3 linked regions of the Homo sapiens genome follow. The protein of the gene in region 1 purifies or fractionates together with the protein of each later gene. This does not show direct contact. Each region holds a gene or a part of one and is shown in the gene's direction. Other genes may lie near its edges.

Region 1 (3,750 bases):
TCTGCCAGCTATCACGAAAGATTGCTAATTTCCTATGATCTGCACATGCTGATATTAATGCTAAAAGAACAGAAGCACCATCAACAGGCAAGTAGATTTCATTTACTAAGGGGCTCCTACTATTTGCTTTATGCAGTATGTTTTGTACATACTACTTCATTAAAACTTCACCAAAAACTGCAAGTTTGGAATTATTGCTCTGTTTTTCAAATAAGACAAACCAAAGCACAAAAAAGTTGAGTAGCTCTGGCAATTATCCCTGCAGCTCCTGGATGGCAGAGCTGGGATCCAAATTTGAATCTTTTATATCTCCTCTGCATGCCATGTGAAATGAACATCATCTGACTCTATACCTTTCTTATTCTGAAAAAAAAAAAAAAAAAAGAGTAATCCTTTACATTTTAAACCAGAAGTCAGCTTTATGGGCTATACCACTTCTTGCAACTACTCACTTCTATCACAGTAGCAGAAAAGCAGCCATAAACAACATGTAAATTAATGAACATGGACATGTTCCAAGAAAACTTTATTTATGAACACAGAAATTTGAATTTCATATAATTGTCATGTCACACAAAAAAGCATTATTTTGATTTTTTTCAACCATGTGAAAAGGTGAGAAAGATTTTTAGCTTACTGGCCATAGAAAAACATGGGGCAAGCCAAATTTGGCCCATGGACTATGTATTGCCCACTTCTGATTTAGACTATAGCTGAGAGAGTGGGTTAAGTATTACTAGTTTGAGTGGGGTTTAGGCAGCCTGAGGCACCATGGCACCATGGAGAAAGTACTAAACTAGGGGAGCAGGTTCACTCACGGGCAGCCTTTAGCTGGTTCTGATGAGTCAGAGATGGTGGAGTATAGTGTTTAGAATCTGAGAGACCTGAGTTTAAACCCAGGATGTTCCATTAAATTTTAGCTCTGTTATCTGGACCTTTGGCTGTATAATGGAAATCACCATGTGTGCCTAACTGACAGAGATGCTATGAGGATTACATGAGACAATGTGGGTGAAACACTTTGCACAATATCTCTCATGTTGTTATTGTTGTTGATGATAATAATGTTGCTCTCAACTGTAAAATATTAGGCAAAAATTATCTACCACAGAGGGCTTTCGTGAGGACCAAGTCAGTCAAGAGATATGAGACTGATTTTGGAAAATTGATATAAAGATCTTTATAACTCTGAGGTAGTTTACAACCTCCCATTTGTTTAAGAATAATCTCCTCCCAGGGTATCTAGCACTTAATCTCCATGGACTTACTTTCTGGGTAAGAAAATGTGTCCCTTAACGCTGTCCATATTTGTCAAGAACTCAGGGAGCAGGTTCATTCTGACTATAGTCAAAGGAATTTTGGTTTCTGACTTATCTTAGAAACTCAGCTTCACCTAGAGGCAGTCAGTGGATCTAGAAAAGTGCCTTTGATCTTACTTTATTCTTCCTGCAGTTAGAATTCCTAAGGAGAATGCAAACACCCATTCTACATCTGAAATTTGAAGTCTAGGCAACAGTATGGACGTAATGATGTTTTTCTTCAGCAGGGTCAGATGATTATAATACTAAAGAAGAAAAGGGTCTATTGATGGTCATTCTTGTCTTAAGGAAACCTGTCCTGGGATTATATTATAGGCTGCCTGTGTTAAACCTTGTCCTTATAGCAAGTTCCCATATCTCATTGCAATCTCTTTTCACTAGCATTTACTTCTAATTATCAAATTATCTTTTCCTCTTTTTATTTTCTTTCTTTGGCTTACATTCCTTATTTTTTCATCCTGGTTTAGATCTCCATATTCCATAACCACAGATTATTATTAGGAATTTTAAAGTGTGTCTAGGTTAGTCTTTGTTTAATAGGTCCTTAGTTCAGAGGGATGTATCAATCGTGTACAAAAAGGGTAGCCTTTGCTATACCAAGGCGTTCTGTGATGTCTTAAGAGTGAAACAGAGTTTTTGATGTTTGCAAACTGAGCCACTTTTCTAAGAGTATTCTGAGGATTAACATTCCACAGAGGTCACTTTGGGAAAGGCTGGTCTATCCAACCCCAGCCATCAGGATAAATTCCTTCTAAAGTCTGAACCACAACCCAGGCCTCTTGACTCTCAGATTCAGTGTTCAATATCACATCTAGAAAAGGACTCTTGGATTCGTTTTTATTGCTTTGTGCCTGACAAGTAGGTATTTTAAAGTGTGCTGTGTTCTCATGAAGGAGATGGTTCTGAAGTATAGACTATAGGTAACCATGAGGTAACCAGGTATTACCTGTTCTGAGGTGAAGAAAGAGAAGATAAAACAATGGATTACAAAACTATAAAAACCATTCCTAACTTCCTCATTTGTTGAATGTTGACAGTTTACTTCTCCTCATCATATAGGTTTCAAACTTTTCTGGTTACCCATCTAATCAGTTTACAAGTTCCTTTCATATTTCTGCTACTAATAATAATATTTTTTTTAAAAAAATTACCATTATCTTTGCTTCGGCCCTGGCAATCTAAATCCTGGATTATATAATTACTTCCTAATTTATGTCTTTCTTATCAATCCCTCTTTTCTCCAAACTAGCCTGCACACCGTCATTCTATTTTCTCCATAAAACACCACTGCCACCATGTTGTGATTTCCCAGTTCAAAAACATTCAATAGCTCATCTTTCTGACTTTACCTCTCTTTATTCTCCAACAGGAGCCTACTCCACAGGGCTCAAGCATAGTTTGTGCATTTCTACCTCTTTGTGTCTTTACGTTATGCCTCCTGTTTGTACTATTCTCAGTTTATTCTTTGTTTCTTGAAATTCAGCCTTATTATAATCTTGCTCAAAGGTTGCCTCTTTCATGAAGTCTTCCCTTACCACTCCGTCTTTATTTAAACTTGCTTTCATTCAAACACTGGTGCAGTTCATTTCACACTTAATCTTGCCTTGCGTTTAATTTTTCATGTGTGTCTTATTTCCTCAACTGTAGTGAAAATTTCCTTTGTACACCTTAGTGTGTCTGGTTCAATACGATGTGTATTCTGGACGCTCAATTACAGGTAGTACAAATGATTCGATAAATCAGGAGGAATTACATCTGTTTATTTGCTCTGCTCCTCAGTATTGAATAAAGAATTCTTATAAAAGATGATTATTACTTTCTCCTGCAGTGAACTAGTATAGGATCGGATAGCTTTCTTATTTTCCTTGCTTTTTTATGTGTTTGTTTTAAGAAAATTCCTGTGTGTCATTCCAGAATCCATTAATTTATACAGAAAGAAAGAGACGTTGACTAGAAACAAGGTCTACTGAGTTAAAAGTTGAATATTCTATACTCTAGGCACATCATTCAATTCTCTTGACTTACGTGATAATACTTGCCTCTCTATACCTAACAAAAATATCGAAAAGAGGAAAGTGATTTTGCCCAAACAAAATCACTTTAAACCAGACAGAAGTGTTCAAAAAATATAATTTTTGCCAATTAAGGTCAGATTCTAGACCCTGAATTTTAAGTTTTCTATATTCCTCAGATGTACTTTGATTGTCGTAGTTCTCTCTGATTATCAAAACTGAACACCCCACTGTGCAAATTGCCCTGAGTGCCCATGTTTGGAGTCTCCTATAGCCTTGTTTAGGTACTTCTTTGACAGAAACAAACAGCACAGCGTTCACACTAATATATACATAATCCTTTCTCTTGACATAAAATCCTGCACCTACTTTTGTGAGAAATGATATGTCTATGTCCAACATTTGGAATTTAATTGGGC
Region 2 (3,750 bases), on another chromosome or scaffold:
CTTTGGGAGGCCAAGGCAGGAGGATCACCAGATATCAGGAGTTTGACACCAGCCTGGCCAACATGGCGAAACCCTATCTCTACTAAAAATACAAAAATTATCCGGGTGTGGTGGCGGGTGCCTGTAATCCCAGCTACTCGGAAGACTGAGGCTGGAGAATCGCTTGAACCTGGGAGGCAGAGGTTGCAGTGAGCTGAGATGTAGCCATTGTACTCCAGCCTGGGCGACAAGAGTGAAACTTCGTCTCGAAATAATAATAATAATAATAATTAGCTGGGCATGGTTGCACACCCTTATAATTCCAGCTACTCAGGAGGATGAGGCATGGGAATTGCTTGATCTTGGGAGGTGGGGGTTGCAGTGAGCTGAGATCGCGCCACTGCACTCCAGCAACAGAGTCAGACTCTGTCTCAAAAAAAAAAAGAAGGTCCTAGATGGAGGTGAGGCTAAAGGGTGGACATTCCTGTGAAGACACAGAATGTGTGGAGCTTCTGGATGGAGGTGGGGCCATAAAGAGGAATTTGTGGGTGGGCAGGGCCAGAGCTAGAGGTACAGGGTGAGCGTGGGGTTAAGGAGAGCTGATTTTGGGTGAGGGAGGGGCCAGAACAAGAGCTTCTCTCAGGGGATAGGGCCAGAAAAAATAATGTAGATGAGAGAGGAGTTTGGGGGCCCAGGAGGAGCTGTATTCCCAGAATCCAGACTTGCTGACCTGCTCGCTTCCCCAGCAGCTGGCCCCTGAGCGGTCAGTCTCAGGCCCACTGGGACCTCTGGGCTGCACGTCCCCGCCCCCAGCCCCTCTCCTACACACCATGCTGGACCTGGAGGAATTTGTCCCGCCTGTGCCCCCACCGCCCTACTATCCCCCAGAGTATACCTGCAGCTCAGAAACAGATGCACAGAGGTAAGGCCTGGTGGGGTCTTGCTGGGGGAGCTAAGGAAGGGGACTGGGGCTGGGCCTGGATTGCTGGAGAGAGGGATCTTTGTGGAGGGGGAATTATTTCTCCTACATTGACCCTCTTCCTCATCTGCCAGCATCACGTACAATGGCTCCATGGACAGCCCAGTGCCCTTGTACCCTACCGATTGCCCCCCTTCTTATGAGGCAGTCATGGGACTACGAGGAGACAGCCAGGTGAGAGCACAGCACGGCTTGGGGCGGGCTGGGGAGCCGGGTTGTAGCCTGGAAAGCTGAACAGGCTGTAGCCTCTGGATAAAGATAGTAACAGTGGTCAAGGTCTTTACAGCACCAGCATGCCCACTGTTGCCTTTGATCTTCCCTAGAGCCTGGTGAGGTGAGTGGGTTGGAAGCTATCATTTCTGCCATACAGACGTGGAAGCTGAGGCTGCACAATTAAGTGACTTGTACAAAGGGACAAGGCTGGTCTGGAATCTAAGTCTCCAGAGCTCTGTCTAGCACATGGGGGTGTTCAGTGTGTAGGGCTGAACCCTTGACCCTGTGTCTTCTGCAGGCCACTCTCTTTGACCCTCAGCTTCACGATGGCTCGTGCATCTGTGAACGAGTGGCCTCCATTGTAGACGGTGAGCAGGGCGTAATGAGGGGTGGACAAGGGCGGGGCTGCCAGGGATAGCTGGGGTGGGTAGAGACAATAGAAGGGGAAAACAAGGCGGAGTTGGTGGTTTGGGGACATAGGAGGGCTGTGGCAACTTGGAACCCTGGACTTATTTTTCTCCTCTGAGATAAAGCTGGAGGCACAGTGGCCCCTAGAGGCTGGGCTTGGGAGAAGAGGAACTGCCTGGGCAGGGCTAGGCCAGGCCAGGCTGGTGCTACACAGCGCCCCCTGCCGCCCACAGTGTCCATGGACAGCGGGTCTCTGGTGCTGTCAGCCATTGGTGACCTCCCTGGGGGCTCTAGCCCGTCGGAGGACTCGTGCCTGCTGGAGCTGCAGGGCTCCGTGCGCTCCGTGGACTACGTTCTCTTTCGCTCCATCCAGCGCAGCCGTGCCGGCTACTGCCTCAGCCTGGACTGTGGCCTGCGGGGCCCCTTCGAGGAAAGCCCCCTGCCACGGCGCCCCCCACGGGCTGCCCGCTCCTATTCCTGCTCTGCCCCTGAAGCTCCACCCCCACTGGGTGCCCCCACAGCTGCCCGCAGCTGCCACCGGTTGGAGGGCTGGCCGCCCTGGGTGGGACCCTGCTTCCCCGAGCTGAGGCGGCGGGTCCCCCGGGGAGGGGGCCGCCCAGCCGCAGCCCCGCCCACCCGAGCCCCGACTCGTCGCTTCAGCGATAGCTCAGGTTCCCTCACCCCACCGGGGCACCGGCCTCCTCATCCGGCATCCCCACCACCGCTGCTGCTGCCACGGTCCCACAGCGACCCAGGCATCACGACCTCCAGTGACACTGGTGAGCCCCCTCCCCGACTGCCCAGGCTCAGGAGAGGGTAGGCACTGGGAGTTAGGTGGCCAGTGATGCCCACCAGGATTGGGGCACAGTTGAGGTCCCTGAGGAGGAAGAAAGGGTGAGTTCACTCCTCTGGTAGACACTTCTCAGGTACTCACCTCCTAGGGACAGAACATCCATAGCTTAGCAGCTAAAAAAGGAGAATTTTTTTTTTTTTTTGAGACGGAGTCTCTGGCTCTGTCGCCCAGGCTGGAGTGCAGTGGCATGATCTTGGCTCACTGCAACCCGTTTCCCGGGTTCAAGTGACTCTCTCCTGCTTCAGCCTGCCGAGTAGCTGGGACTACAGGTGTGCGCCACCATGACCGGCTAATATTTTTTTTTTTTTTTTTTTTTGAGACGGTGTCTCGCTCTGTCACCCAGGCTGGAGTGCAGCCGCGCGATCTGGGCTCACTGCAAGCTCCGCCTCCCGGGTTCACGCCATTCTCCTTCCTCAGCCTCCCGAGTAGTGAGTAGCTGGGACTACAGATGCCTGCCACCACGCCCGGCTATTTTTTTGTATTTTTAGTAGAGATGGGGTTTCACCGTGTTATCCAGGATGGTCTCAATCTCCTGACCTCGTGATCTGCCCGCCTCGGCCTCCCAAAGTGCTGGGATTACAGGCATGAGTCACCGTGCCCGGGCAATTTTTGTATTTTTTAGTAGAGACAGGGTTTCACCCTTTTGGCCAGGCTGGTCTTGAACTCCTGACCTCAAGTGATCCACCCGCCTCGGCCTCCCAAAAGGATTTATTTTTTGAAACCAGTTCCACAGCTCTCAGCTTGGTCCACTTATCTGTCCTCCCCAAGCTTCAGCTGTCACTTGTTAAACATGTATAATAATAGTACTTCAGGCCGGGCACGGTGGCTTGCACCTGTAATCCCAGCACTGTGGGAAGCTGAGGTGGGTGGATCACCTGAGGTCGGGAGTTCGAGACCAGCCTGGCTAACATGGTGAAACCCTATCTCTACTAAAAATACAAAAATTAGCCAGGTGTGGTGGAGCGCGCCTGTAATTCCAGCTACTAACAGAGAGGCTAAGGCAGGAGAATCGCTTGAACCTGGAAAGCAGGGGTTGCCGTGAGCCAAGATCATGCCACTGCACTCCAGCCTGGGTGACAGAGACACACTCCATCTCAAAAACACAAACAAACAAACAAAAAACATGTATAATAACAGTACTTCAGCCATAGGCATTGTACTCGAAGATGCTGAGAAAGGAGACAGTGGCCGGGCAAGGCTGTTCACACCTATAATCCCAGCACTTTGGGAGGCCAAGGCAGGTGGATCACCTGAGGTCAGGAGTTCAAGACCAGCCTAGCCAACATGGTGAAACCCCCATCTCTACTAAAAATTGAAA
Region 3 (3,750 bases), on another chromosome or scaffold:
CTCTGTCTCAAAAAGCAAACAAACAAAACTACTAATTGAATCCAACCTTCTCGTTTTATAGGTGATGAGACTGAGGCCAAAGAAGAAGGAAAAAGGAGATGTTCAGGATCACGCAATGATTTGTGGCAAAACCCCAGCTATTAATATAACACCTATACAACTTCTAGACCAGTGCTTTTTCCACTTGAAAGGCCTTGTTATCTGAGTTTTGTTTTTTGTTTTTTTTCTGAGACAGAGTCTCACTCTGTCACCCAGGCTGGAGTGCAGTGACGCGATCTTGGCTCACTACAACCTCCGCCCCCTGGGTTCAAGCGATTCTCCTGCCTCAGCCTCCCTCCCGAGCAGCTGGGACTACAGGCACACGCCACCATGCCCAGCTAATTTTTGTATTTTTGGTAGAGACGGGGTTTCACCATGTTGGTCAGAATGGTCTCGATCTCCTGACCTCGCGATCCGCCTGCCGCGGCCTCCCAAAGTGTTGGGATTACAGGCATAAGCCACCGCGCCCGGCCGTTCTCTGAGTTCTTAAGTGGGCATAATGTCAGTGATGCCAGGGCCATGACTGTAGGCAAGGGCTGGAACTGCATGCCCTTTGGTGCTTTTACCCTTCCAAGTTTATGTCCAGGAATATACATCTCTCCCCAACTGCCTAAGTAGGTGCTAGTTGATATCATGATTGATTTGGTCTTCTTGGGTAAGACCTCAGTTAATTCTGGGTAATTTTTTGTTTGGGGATGAACTGTAGCCATCCACCTATGAAGAAAGTGTTGCTTTTATTCTTTGCTAGGTTCCATCCATACCTGGATGAGGAACAGCAAGAATATTTATTTCCTCATTTCCTTTTTACTAATCTCAATGTCTGGTCCTTCAGAAAAGAAACGAATGGGCTAAAGAGATAACTAGACTGGAAGAGAGGAGAAAAGTGTCAGAGGGGTGTTGGAGTAGGATGGGTTGGAGGAAGGACAGGAACAGCAAAGATGGAGGCTCTTCATGCCGGCCCCAATACCTTTCCATGTCTTCTTTCTCCACCCCGATACCCTCTGATGTCCAGTGCCTGAGGAGCTGGGGCAGTAGGGACATACTGAGATTGCCCTCCAACCCCATAAATCTACATCACTTTTCTATTTTCCTGACTCAAGCTTCCAAAGGCTGGGTTCCGCATCCCCAAAACCCATCTCTGAATCTCCAGGGCCTACCACTGACTGCACAGAACAGGCATTAGCGTATGCTTCAAAAAGACATCCCTGAGGAGCATAATAGTCATACTGTCACCCTCTAGCCTATAGTTTGCGAAGCCCTTTCCAGGCAGGACTTCAGTCGCCCCTCCTTGGATGTCCCTAGGGTTAGGCAGGGCCGAAGCCACTATCCCAACTCTACAAATGAGGAAAAGCCAAGAGCCGTGCTGCAGGCAGCTGGCAGCTGGCAGCAGCACTCTTCCACAGATCTCCTGACGAAGGTCGAGCACTTCTCTGCGTCTCCCACGGCCTCTGGCGCAGAGCCTGCCGGGAGTTGTAGTCCAGTGCCCCGGGAGCTCATATGGACTGGACTACAATGACCAGCGTGCCCCGCGCTCCGCGCCCCCTTCTCTTTCAGCCTCGGGCACGGGGGAGGCTCGGCGGACCTGCTGATTGGGAACCGATATGGCGGCGACTCTGGGCAGCGGGGAGCGCTGGACGGAAGGTACTAGGTCCCCGCCTGAAGGAGGGATAGGGCGGCCTTCGGGAGAGATCAGGGATGAGGATCCTGAAGACGCACAAGGGCTGAGATCCTGGGTCTGAGGTGATGGATAGAGGCCTGTGAAAAGATGCTGAGCCTGAGTAGGGTTGCGGATGGGGTAGGGAAGCTGGGGACCGACCGCGAGCCCAGAGTCACCGGTGACGACTTGTTGCCTCCGGCCCCCAGCCCCGCCCCCGCCCGTGCCCCGCCCAGGGCCCGCAGCTGTCAGGCCCCGCCCATGCCAAGGTGACTGGAGGGCCCGTGGGGTGCTGCGGTCTCTCCGCAGCTTGCTAACCTGGCCCTTATCTTTCGCCTAACTGGGCCACCTGACCTTCAGTCCCTGTTTGATCATGTCGCTCCAGCCGGCATCAGGACCAGCCTTTTCCACCCTACAGTCAGGCAAAAAATATTGATCCAATACCTATTGTGTGCCCCGCCTAATGCTGATTCTGCAGTGGGGATTTGACTGACATGGGTCCCTTAGCTCACAAAACTCGCAGCCCACTGAGAGAGTTTGACGACTGAACAGCCAATTACAAAACGGGCGAATAATACAAAACGCCTGGGCTACACAGCAAGGTCAGGGATTTGGAGAGCACACTTACAAGGTACCTAACGCAGACTGGCTGTCAAGGGAGGTTTCTTGCAGAAAGTGTTACAAATGGTGACAAGAAGGATGCGTCGGAGTTAGCCAGGCCGACTTAGAGGAAGACTGTCCAGGAGCAGTGGGTGGAGGTAGCTGAGGGATGTTAAGCGGAAGAAAGATGTTGTTAAAGCCTTTCTCAGGTCCTCCAGAGAAGACATGAGTGCTCTGCCCCTTTTGACTGTATTGCTTATGACCCTCTTTACATTCTGCAGGTGTTGTTATTGAATCTTCTCCCTTTAAACCAGGGGTATCCAATCTTTTGGCTTCCCTGGACCACATTGGAAGAAGAATTGTCTTGGGCCACACATAAAATACACTAACTGACGACTAAATAACTAACTGATGACAGCTAATGAACTTTAAAAAAATTGCAAAAAAAAATCTCATAATGTTCTTTTTTTTTTTTTTGAGACGGAGTCTCGCTCTATCACCCAGGCTGGAGTGCAGTAGCGCGATCTCGGCTCACTGCAACCTCCGCCTCCCGGGTTCACGCCATTCTCCTGCCTCAGCCTCCCGAGTAGCTGGGACTACAGGCGCCTGCCACCACGCCCGGCTAATTTGTTGTATTTTTAGTAGAGACGGAGTTTCACGGTGTTAGCCAGGATGGTCTCGATCTCCTGACCTCGTGATCCGCCCGCCTTGGCCTCCCAAAGTGCTGGGATTACAGGCGTGAGCCACCGCGCCCGGCCCTCATAATGTTCTAAGAAAGTTTACGAATTTGTATTGAGCTCAAAGCCGTGCTGGGCCACATGCCACCTGTGGGCCGCGGGTTGGACAAGCTTGCATTAAACTAACCTCTTTGTGGTCAGGAGTAGATCTTACCCATCCGCCCTCTTGATCTTCTAGCCAAGTTCCTTGGTATATATTAGTTCTATAATTGTTAGTGTAAAAGAATTGAACTCCTCTCTACTTTAAATTTTAGGGGTGGGAGGCACTGCAACAAAAAATACTATTTTACGAGCAGTGTCTCTTCTGACCACGGACCACAGAGAAACATGTTTATTCAGCTTTGTATGAGTGCTTAAAAGTCAGCATGACGCCTCTAGCCCTGGCCATCATGCTTACCTTCTCATGCTTACGAGCAGCCTCCCAGAGAGGAAAGGCAGGTTGCAAAGTTGATTTTCAGGGTCAGATGGAGACCTAATGGAGGGGCTGTTGTTTGCAGCTTACATTGACGCAGTTAGAAGAAACAAATACCCAGAAGACACACCTCCTGAGAGTCATGACCCCTGTGGCTGCTGTAACTGCATGAAGGCACAAAAGGAAAAGAAGTCTGAGAATGAGTGGACTCAGACCCGGCAGGGTGAGGGGAACTCCACGTATAGTGAGGAACAGCTGCTTGGGGTACAAAGGTGAGCATGTGGTGAGATTAAATGAGTGATTTTATG

What was found.
Region 2: the proteins of FSHR (region 1) and ENTREP3 purify together in Homo sapiens (affinity purification with mass spectrometry; 2 studies listed by BioGRID and IntAct, with this or other methods). This does not show direct contact.
Region 3: the proteins of FSHR (region 1) and DNAJC18 purify together in Homo sapiens (affinity purification with mass spectrometry; 2 studies listed by BioGRID and IntAct, with this or other methods). This does not show direct contact.

Annotation. Positions count from the first base shown.
Region 1 is NC_000002.12:49,147,776-49,151,525, reverse strand, and holds part of FSHR (follicle-stimulating hormone receptor isoform 1 precursor), read left to right. Parts: intron 1-3,750. UniProt on the Homo sapiens protein: G protein-coupled receptor for follitropin, the follicle-stimulating hormone. Through cAMP production activates the downstream PI3K-AKT and ERK1/ERK2 signaling pathways.
Region 2 is NC_000001.11:155,248,884-155,252,633, reverse strand, and holds part of ENTREP3 (protein ENTREP3), read left to right. Parts: intron 1-725; coding exon of another isoform or gene 726-728; coding exon 729-901; intron 902-1,032; coding exon 1,033-1,132; intron 1,133-1,469; coding exon 1,470-1,539; intron 1,540-1,812; coding exon 1,813-2,358; intron 2,359-3,750.
Region 3 is NC_000005.10:139,437,336-139,441,085, reverse strand, and holds the start of DNAJC18 (dnaJ homolog subfamily C member 18), read left to right. Parts: upstream 1-1,560; 5' UTR 1,561-1,640; coding exon 1,641-1,680; intron 1,681-3,527; coding exon 3,528-3,714; intron 3,715-3,750.